Linked DNA regions of Homo sapiens. The protein of the gene in region 1 purifies or fractionates together with the protein of each later gene. This does not show direct contact. Each region holds a gene or a part of one and is shown on either strand. Other genes may lie near its edges.

Region 1 (5,546 bases):
CTTACTGACCTTCTTCTAGTTCCCAAGCTGCTCCCTCTGCCTGAAAGTCTATCCTACTCTTTCCATGGTGAGATCCTGAGTACTTTCAGGTCTCAACCTAAAGGCCACCTTCTCAGAGACGCCCAGGCTTGATCACCCCACCCAGGGTAAGTCTCCAACCCGCCCACCAGCTGCTTTCCTTTGCGGCACTCTGTTCTTCTGCAACCTAGCCTTAGCACCTGCTGCATTCATGTACATGCTCATTCAGTCGTCTACTGTCCCTCTCCCTCCTAGACAGCAGGCTCTGGGGAGCAAGGGCCACCAATGTTTTGTTCTCCTTTGTGTCCCCGGTGCCTGGCACCAATCATACATATCTGCTGGTTGAATGAATGAATGAAGAACACTACTTTCTCCTTGACAAATCTAGGATTGATATGCATGAAAGAGAACAGGCATAGCTTCTCACTCTAACAAAAGAAACCAAACTGATCCTCCATCAGAAGATTGAGATGAACTTCCTACTTTATACAAAGCTTTCCATTCATAATCCAACATGTAGTGCCATCATCTGCCACTGAATCCAACGCCAACTCTGACAGTTACAGTTTCCAGACAGAGTGTCTTACATAAACCCCCCATTTACTGGGGTCAGAAACATCTCTCAGGTACAACCCAAAATGTGGTGATGACTCTCCAGTGACTCTCCAGCAGCAATGTCAATTTTGAGGAGCAAGAACCAACTAAATCCTTCCCGAGAAAGGTCACATTGTGGAGGAGAAAGAAAACAGCAGCTTCAGAGCCAGAGAGGAATGGGTTTGAGCCCCCTCCACCATCTATGACCTTGTGACTCTGGGCAGATTATTTAGCCTGAGCCTCTGAGTCTCAACCTCTCCATCTAGAAAGAGGAACAATAGTGCCTATTGCTTTGAAAAGTAAATGATAGCCGGGCATGGTGGCTCAAACCTGTAATCCCAGCATTTTGGGAGGGGGCGTATCACTTGAGGTTAGGAGTTCGAGACCAGCCTGGCCAACATGGAGAAACCCCTATCTACTAAAAATACAAAAATTAGCCAGGTGTGGTGGCTTGCATCTATAATCCCAGCTACTCAGGAGGCTGAGGCAGGAGGATCGTTTGAACCCACGAGGTGGGGGTTGCAGTGAGCCGAGATCGTCCCGCTGCACTCAAGCCTGGGCAACAGAGTGAGACTCCATCTCAAAAAATTAAAAAAAAAAAAAAAGAAAAGTAAATGAGGAAGGTATAGAAAACCATGAGCACAATGCCTGGCACCAAATGGGCTCAATAAACGTTAGTACCTCCTGGGCTCAGCAGCTCTTTCAACCAGGAGGAAATTCATGATCTCAAGATCCATGGGTTCTTGATGGGTATAGGATAAAACTCGCCAAGGAAATAAGTTCTGTGATACACAATGATAGTGTTAGCATTTGTTAAATAGGAAGAGAACTCTCAGGTTTTCTGCATTCCTCCCTGAGGGAAAGGACCGTGTCTGTCTTAGGTCCTGCAGATTCCCCAGGATCTAGAATGCACCCTGGCACACCACAAGTGTGTATGATATTAATGGATGAGTGAATGAATGAAGTCCCTAAAAGTAACATAATTTGATAGGCAATTGTTAAATTTTACACTCACAAATGGAGCCAATGTAACTCCAACACCAACAGCACATGTACCTTGTGGTTTTCTGTGTTAAACCTATGACGTCCAATAATTTCAGGGGTGATCTCCATTACATCAAAATAAAAACCTGAAATAAAACCAGGAAGAGATCAGCCGTCATTAGTCAAAAAACAAAAGATCAGCTTCTTAACAGACTTAGAACAGGACAAAATGACCCCATATCCCTGGGTCCCCTGGCTCTTTCATCCCCCAGATGAGACCTGTGAATATTCTCAGTTCCTTCTCTCCAACAGGATAGAAGGGAACCAGGGAGCCCTGAGCTAGCTTTTCTCAAAGACAACTCTTCCTGCTCTCACTTGGCAGCCTGGAATAGGAAGCAGCTGCCCAGCCAATCCTAAAATATCAAAACAGGTTTGACCAAGGGAGGCACAGACCCTCCCTGCTCAGGCCTGCCCAGACACTGGGGACTTTTCCTTGTGCCTGGGGCAGAGGCTGTGAACGGGGATGCACCAGGGTAGAGGCTGCCCTCTCTGATGCTGTCACCAGGGGCTTGGTGGGGACAGAAGACATAGCTATGGCCTGATGTTCTGCTCAGAGCAGAAGCCAAGGACAGCCTTACAGCCCCACCCTTGCTCAGAACACAGGGTTCCACACCAGCTTGTAGGATGTGTGGAATATAAGTGCAGACAGACAGGACTCCCCTGGACTTCTCCACGGCCCTCCTCTCCCCCAGCTCATGGGGCCCCAGGCTCTGCCCCTCCAGTCGGCAGCTGCTGACCCTTCACAGGCCTGGGCACCACCAACTGGCCTACCCAGGTTTCCACCGTTGCCCATCTCTGTGGACTGCAGTGCCTTAGAGAAATCGCTCCAGGAACGGGATACAGACTCGTTGCGGATCTTCTCTCTCATGAGGGAGCCATTTTTAAAGCTGCAGAAGAGGGCATAGCTCTGAGGGAGGGAGCTGGTGCTTGCTGACTGGACCCATGAGTTTCAGTGAAGAGACTCAGGCAGAGGAACTGCAGGTCAGGCTGGACCACGACCCCTAGTCAGTGCACAGCAGGCTTTGAAACTTAGGTATCGGAGGCTCTTCCTCAGATTCAGGCCCCTGAATGTCCCTGGGAGGTGCCGGAAACGCCCTTGTCTTGGGCTGTTTACACAGGAGGCTGACACAGAGGAGCCCCAGGTAGAGACAGGGAGCTTGGGTTTCTGCACATTCTACCATGGGCACAATGAGGCAGGGAGGGCTAGATTAACTAGCCACATTCTCCAATGGTTCTTAGGGCTTAGGAGCTCAGAAACCATTTCCCTCAGGAGCTTTGGACAGGTCTCCAAAGGCCTGTGGTCAGAGCACAGAGCATGTCCCTTCCATGAGAGCCGTCGGGAGGCAGGATGTCCTTCCCGCCATTTGCTGAGGGTCCACCACATGCCAGACGGGTCACAGTAACAATGTGAGGTAAATGCTCTTACCCTCCCCATCTCATGAGGAAAGTGTGGCTCAGACATGCCACACTACAGAGTTTGCCCAAGGTCACACAGGATATAGCTGGTGAGGATAGAATTTGAACCTGGGCTTGAAGGACACAGGGTCTTGGGTTATTCCCCACCCAGCTCTGCTGTCAGCAAGAGCTGGTGAGTCCTTGGGGGTCTCAGTTGCCCAGCAGAGCCCGGGAAAGTGGAGGGAGTCATTCCAGAGCTTAGTGGAATGACTTGGGGTCCTCAAGATGGTGCCAGACCTGCCCACACCTCCTCACCCAGGGAATGGTGCCAACCAACACCCAAGCTCACCACAGGAGTGCCATGTAGTGCTGGGAGTCAACCGGGTTGCAGAAGATGTGGCCTTCCAGGGCAGGCATGGGCTCTTGGAGCCAGAGAAACAGGGTGTCACTGGTGCCCAGGCTGACCTGAGGAGAGATAGGCAGAGGTGGGCACCTTGGGCTTTGCCCACACACGCTGCCCTCTGCCAGCGACGCGCTGTACTCCACCCACCTTAACCCTGTCACTTCACTCATGCTGCAGACCTCAGATGCAAGGCCACTTTCTAAGAGCCACTTCTGACCCTCCCATACCAGATGAGCCAGGAGTTAGCTCCCCAGATGCAGATCTCATGGATCTTCTGTGCTGATTTCCCACAACTGCATCTAAATAATGGTTTGGGTGATGGCTGGTTCCCCATATGACTTTCCCACTAGAAGTAGGAATGTCTGGGTTATGTCTTCCTTATTCATCTGCGCTGCTCACAGCCCTTTGGCCCCACATCTGACCCTCTGCCACTGCATGCACTAAGACTGGCCACTGTGAAGCAGGCAGGGGTCCTGCCCATCTAGCAAAGAACAATGACTTTCTGAGAAAGATGTGCGCCCCCATCCCCTCCCTCCACTGTCTTTTGGAACCGGCAGACACTCTGATAAGTAGCAGAGATCCTGCTGGGACCCAGACCCTGGGACCCTGGGATCTGGGTCTCAGCAGCACCTCTGCTACTTATCAGAGTGTGGGTGTGAGTGTGGAAACAGAAAGAGCCTATGGGTGTGGGAAGTCGCCTTACCGCAATGTCACCTTCCTCCAGTCTCATGCCTGCCAGCGACGCTGAGAATGGGAGGGGAGCTTCTGGTTAGCTGGCGGCCACATGGGAACCACAAAGCAAACCACAGGGCTCTCCAGGCAGGCGCAGAGCCCCCACCTCCAACCCCCACCCACACCCTAGGGTGGAGGCAGGAGCAGGGGAGCTGAGCGCTCAGGAGGCCCTAAGAGGAGAAGGTCATAGGGGTCACGGGGTGAAGTCTCTGTTAGCAGGGCCGCTGATTTGAGCTGTGAAGTCTCTTCCCTGAAGGGGTCCAAACATCCCTCCACTGTCAGGCACTTCCGAGAGTGCAGAGAATCAAGGAGGCCAAGACAAGACACCAAGGATATACAGCAAAGAAAGACAAAGGCAGTAATGGAAAAGAAGGGGGTGAGGTTATGTTCACTCTCTGTGCCCTGCCTTAGACACAAAGCCCACAACAGCAATCTTTTTTTTTTTTAAGAGATATATAGGTGGGGTCTCACTCTGTCACCCAGGCTGGAGTGCAGTGGCATGATCATAGCTCACGGCAGCCTAGAACTCCGGGATCACGCAATCCTCCCACCTCAGCCTCCCAAGTAGCTAAGACTACAGGTGCACACTACCACACATGGCTCACAACAGCAATCTTTATCTGCCTTGATTGCTGAAGGGCCCCAGCACTGAAGGAAGGCCTGGCACATAATAGGCACTCACTAAATGCTGAGTGAATCAACATGTGAATAAAGGTGAAATGGGAGTGAGGAACAGGTGCACTCAAACACTGCCACTGAGGTTCAATCAGCAGTGTGTGTGTCAGAAGCCTTGGATCTAGGAATCCCACCTTTGAGAACTTATCCTATAACAACAAAGAGACGAGACCGAATGTGAATCTCAACATCGTCTGCACTGCCCAAACACTGAAGCAACACCACCCTCCATCCATCAGGGACCAGTGAAATAAATGCTGGGACAACTGAGCTCTAGACAACTGTTAAAATGAGAAAGATACTGCCCAGGTTGATTAAAAGAAACAATGCTTATTTATGAGCACAGAAAGAAGACTGAAAGGACAGAAATTAATCTTTCTGATTAAGGTTAAAATTAACCTTTCTAGTTACTGTTAAATGTAACCCTAATCTGGTGGATCGTTAGAAAAAGACTTACTTTTCCTGGGGTGGGGGTGAGGTTGAGGGGTAGTAGTTAGGTTGTTATTCAGTGTAGCCCACCTGGCCTTCCTTCAGAGATCCAAGGGCCCCTCCAGGAGTGGCTTCAGGGCTACCCAGAGGAGAGGAGGAGGAAGAGAAGAGGCTAGGGAAGGAGATGAGGTGTCTGGACGAGAAACAAGTCATTGCTGCAGATCAGATGACAGGGCAGAGACTTAAAACCATGTCC
Region 2 (4,523 bases), on another chromosome or scaffold:
AAAGGAAAATGTAGAAAAACCTAAAACAGAATTCCTGGACTAGAGTGTCTACCCTTGCATCTGTCAACATTTCAATCATATGAGAGCCACTTTGAGATTAAGCAGACTTAAGCAATCTAGTTCAATAAGAAAAATTTAAAATGTTCACAGATGAGGATGTCAGACTATTTTTAAATGTGTCTAAGAAATCATTGACCTTTCTGGTAAACCAACTCTTAATAATCTACATGGTATCTTTGCGACCTTTAGATAAGGTTTAAAAGCCTTTACTCCTCAAGTCCACTAAGGTTTTTCCCAATATGCACCAATGCCTCTACAGTTACTAAAAAAACACTTTTATTCTTTGAATTATATTTATATGAATTTGTGAGTGTGAAAGGACAATTATTGCTAAAAATGTAAAATTATCCATAAACTACGGCAAAATTAAGTGAGTTCTCGTTTTTGTGTCAAAAAATAGAATGTCTCTTTATACTTCATTGCATTTCAGAATGGTTTTGAAGTGGCTTTAAAAAAGTTTTTAAGATACATTTAAATATGGAAGCAAAGAAATTGAAAAAGAAAAGCTAAAAAATTGGGTCCAAATTTAACTCTGATCTTCCTAGGATCTGATTCAAGGATGGAAACCCAATCTGTTTTGTGATTCATTGCTAGAACAAAGAGGGAGAAGTGGGAGAACCACAGGCTGAGGAAAATTTTTCCAGACAGATAGTGTCACTTCATGTATGACAACATTTCTAACAATATTCCTCACAGAAATTATAAAGGTGAGTTTTATAGGGTTAACACTGCAAATATTCTCTTCAGTTAACCCATTTATGCCTAGTGTTCCATTATTGGAACGCTAAGCTTGTGGGAGTTCTTCATATCCTGCTGTTTAAGGTCATCGCCAAGGTCTGATTTTTCACACAAAAAATTTGCTACCTCTGGCATAAAAGCAGGAATAGTATACTGGCAAAGCACAGTTTAGTACAAAGCAATTCCACAAGCGATCAAAAGGATATGAGCTCACTCATCATCTGGCCAGCCCCTCCTGCATAAGTATTTACTACTGTCAAGCTTTTGATAGGTATATATCAAGCAGAAACGTGTGGCAGTTATACAAGAACCTGGAAGTAGATACATCACACTGTGGAAGAAAAGCAGTCATGTAAGCTTTAATCACTTGCAGTGCTACCAGAAGGGCTGGCATCCTCAGGAGCCTGACTATGCTAGACTAGCTATCTGAAAAAAAAAAAAAAGTAAAAAAAAGTTTTTACTTCTATACAGATAGCCAAAGAGGTATCAGGCCTAGATTTTCATCAAAAATGGTTCTAGCAAGTTCTTACAAGGAACAACTAAATAATATGTAGGTTCTAAAGAATAATGTAATAATTAGGTCAATTAGATTTATCTATTTTCCCCCCTTGGTAGTACCTTTTAATTCCGTATTTTGGAAAAATTTCTCACTTCCAAGGCCGTGAAACTTAATGATCTTCCAAAGGGCTGAAATTCAACATATTCTTTTATAAAAAAGAACTTTCTTCAGCCTTCCTGAGAAAACCAGGATTTACAATTTTAACAATTTATGTGATTTTAGAATATCCACTTACGGGCCAGACGCCATGGCTCACATCTGTAATCCCAACACTTTGGGAGGCCGAGGCAGGCAGGTCACTTGAGGTCAGGAGTTTGAGACCAGCCTGGCCAACATAGTGAAACCCTGTCTCTACTAAAAATAAAAAAATTAGCCAAGCATGGTGGCAGGTACCTGTAATCCCAGCTACTCAGGAGGCTGAGGCAGGAGAATCGCTTGAACCCGGCAGGCAGAGATTGCAGTGAGCAGAGATCACGCCACTGCACTCCAATCTGGGCCACAAAGAGAGACTGTCTCAGAAAAAGAAAAAAAAAAAAAAAAAAAAAAAGCATATCCACTTATGGCTGTTTATTTTCCTAGTTGTACATGTGAACAAAAAATACTTTTCCAAGAAAGAAAGTCAACTTAGGAACCACAGAGGGAATCGCTGGCCCATGAGACAATGTCCTGGAGACATATTTGACGGGAAATTGGTCTAGTCATAGTTGAAGAGCAATCTCACCTCTGCACATTTATGGACAGTGTCAGGACCTACTCCACCATCGACCTCTATATCCAAAGATGGGAACTGGGTCCTCAACCAGTGAACCTAGATATATACATGAGGAAATAAGTAACTCCTAAAGTGGGTATGTTGGTGGGGGTGGGGGTGGGGGACAATCAAACAAAAAAATCCAACAGCAAATATTAGCAATTAAAACTCCAATTGTCTCACACAATAACTATACCAATACAACATATTACTGGGGAACACTTGGTTTTTAATAGCAAGCTTTGTTCTATTTGGCAAACAGCAATCTGTATTGTCTTTGCAGAGACTGTCATGTAAACAAGACAGACAAATCCTCAATAGTCAATGACAACTTCCAAGAGATCTAAAAGTTAGAGATAATAGTTTCAAAAGGAAATTTCAAGACTTCCAGGCGTGGTTGGCTGCCACCTGTAATCCCAACACTTTGGCAGACCAAGGTGGGAGGACAGCTTAAGCCCAGGAGTTCAAGACCAGCCTGGGTACGTAGTGAGACCTCCTCTCTACTAAAATGTGTAAGAATTAGCCGGGCATGGTGGTATGCACCTGTAGTCCTAGCTACTCAGGGGGCCGAGGCAGGAGGATCTCTTGAGTCCAGGAGGTCAAGGCTGCAATGAACCCTAATTGAATTACTGCATTCCAGCCCAGGTGACAGAGCAAGACTTTGTCTCAAAGAAAGAGAAAATTTCAAGATAAAGATGTAATACTTCTCTGATTTCCAAATCAGAAATCTATTACAGCATTTATTATACTGTATTAGAATGATCTGTAAGCATCCCCATCTCCTCACCTTCAGAACAGGTTATGCCTAAATATACAAGCCTTTCAATAAATGCTTACTGAATGAACACACTGTAAAAGCCTCACCCCAAAATCAAATACTTCTTTTACCTTTGGCATCATATCTTCCATGAATTTCTGCCCTCCAAACCCCGGTTCCACTGTCATAACCAAGGCCATATCTATCTGATTAGCCCATGGTGCCAAATACTCAACTGAGGTTCCTGGTTTGATGGCAAGGCCAACCTGTAACAGACACAAATATGCTATATCACATTTACAATTACTTCTGTATTATATTATTGTGGCATAGCAGGCCCAGTAGAAATATCTGTTCTTATTTTTTAAAAGTTAACAAGACTATTAAATGTAAGTATTTTCAACAAGCAGTAGCTTTCAGAAAACTTTAGTGGAATACATAAATGCTATGTGACAAAGAAGTTAAATCCTGGCATCATAGCTGAAGAACAGCTGCTTAAGTAAGGTATTCTTTACCTGCAATGGGCCCTGACTGTGCCACTGCACTTCAGCCTGGGTGACAGAGCAAGACTGTATCAAAAAAAGAGAAAATTTCCTGTTTCCCGCAAATCTTCCCAACTGAGAGTGAATGTTACAAAACACTCTCATCACGATTTCTTACCTTCATCCCATTCTCCCGAATGTCTTTAATCAAAGCCCCTGGGTTCTCAGTAGCCTCGAGATGAAAGGTGTACTGATTGGCTCCTGCTACAGCCATTGGCTTTACCCACTGTTCTGGCTTGGACACCATCATGTGCATGTCTAGAAAGAAAAGACACTTCAAAATATTACTGAAAAATACCTGGCTCATGTTATTGGAAGCCAACCTGTATGTAGTTTTTGCCACTTCTGATAAGAACTCTTTGGCCATCACACAAATCATTATTTAAATAGTTCTAATTCAGTATAGGTAGTTTCCTCTTATTTTGAAGACAAGGATTTATTTAAATTCATTTACAAAAAACACTATTTTCCCACAAAAAGCATACAGTGCTGTATATAAAAAGTTAACATCTAAAAATCAGGAAATCTAGGTCCAGGTCCAGGAAATGCCACTCTAAAAAACTTAAAGAATAAGTCATACTATCCATGCAAACTAGTTTCCTCTAGGAAAAATTAAGTGATCCTTTTCATTTATTCTTTCAATTTATCGAGCTATTGCTGCATCATTAATTATTCTAGGTCCTAGGGTTAGAGCAAAAACATGAAACTCTCCTGTCATAGGGATTACATTCTTAATGCGAGAGTCAAACAATAAACAAAATAAGTAAGTAAAATGCACACTAGGTTGGCAGTTAATATGGCTGGTGTGCCTGGGGAAGGAGATACACCAGTCAGAGGTCAGGGAAGCATGTGGTGAGGAGAAACCCTTCAGCATTCTGCAGGCCACTGGGAAAAACCACCACAGTGAAGTGACAAGATACTATCGACTGAGGAAGCTACGATAGCAATAACCCAGGTGAAAAATGATGGCAGCAATTCGGGATGGATATGTTCTTAAATAAGAGCAAAGAGAGCTGAGGATAGATGAGATGTGGAGGATAAGAGGATCCTCCATGGATAGATAGATGAGAGGAAAATAAAGATGGCATCAAGGATTTTGACCTTATCAACTAGAAG

Evidence for each region. Proteins that work in one complex are often made in the same cells at the same time.
Region 2: the proteins of XYLB (region 1) and RPE fractionate together in Homo sapiens (co-fractionation; one large-scale study listed by BioGRID). This does not show direct contact.

What each region holds. Positions count from the first base shown.
Region 1 is NC_000003.12:38,373,114-38,378,659, reverse strand, and holds part of XYLB (xylulose kinase), read right to left. Parts: intron 4,199-5,546; coding exon 4,158-4,198; intron 3,517-4,157; coding exon 3,401-3,516; intron 2,544-3,400; coding exon 2,428-2,543; exon of another isoform or gene 2,394-2,427; intron 1,743-2,393; coding exon 1,669-1,742; intron 1-1,668. UniProt on the Homo sapiens protein: Phosphorylates D-xylulose to produce D-xylulose 5-phosphate, a molecule that may play an important role in the regulation of glucose metabolism and lipogenesis.
Region 2 is NC_000002.12:210,015,115-210,019,637, reverse strand, and holds part of RPE (ribulose-phosphate 3-epimerase), read right to left. Parts: intron 3,666-4,523; coding exon 3,526-3,665; intron 3,435-3,525; coding exon of another isoform or gene 3,381-3,434; intron 3,132-3,380; coding exon 2,997-3,131; intron 2,166-2,996; coding exon 2,079-2,165; intron 1,849-2,078; coding exon of another isoform or gene 1,751-1,848; intron 1,486-1,750; coding exon of another isoform or gene 1,420-1,485; exon of another isoform or gene 1,417-1,419; intron 1-1,416. UniProt on the Homo sapiens protein: Catalyzes the reversible epimerization of D-ribulose 5-phosphate to D-xylulose 5-phosphate.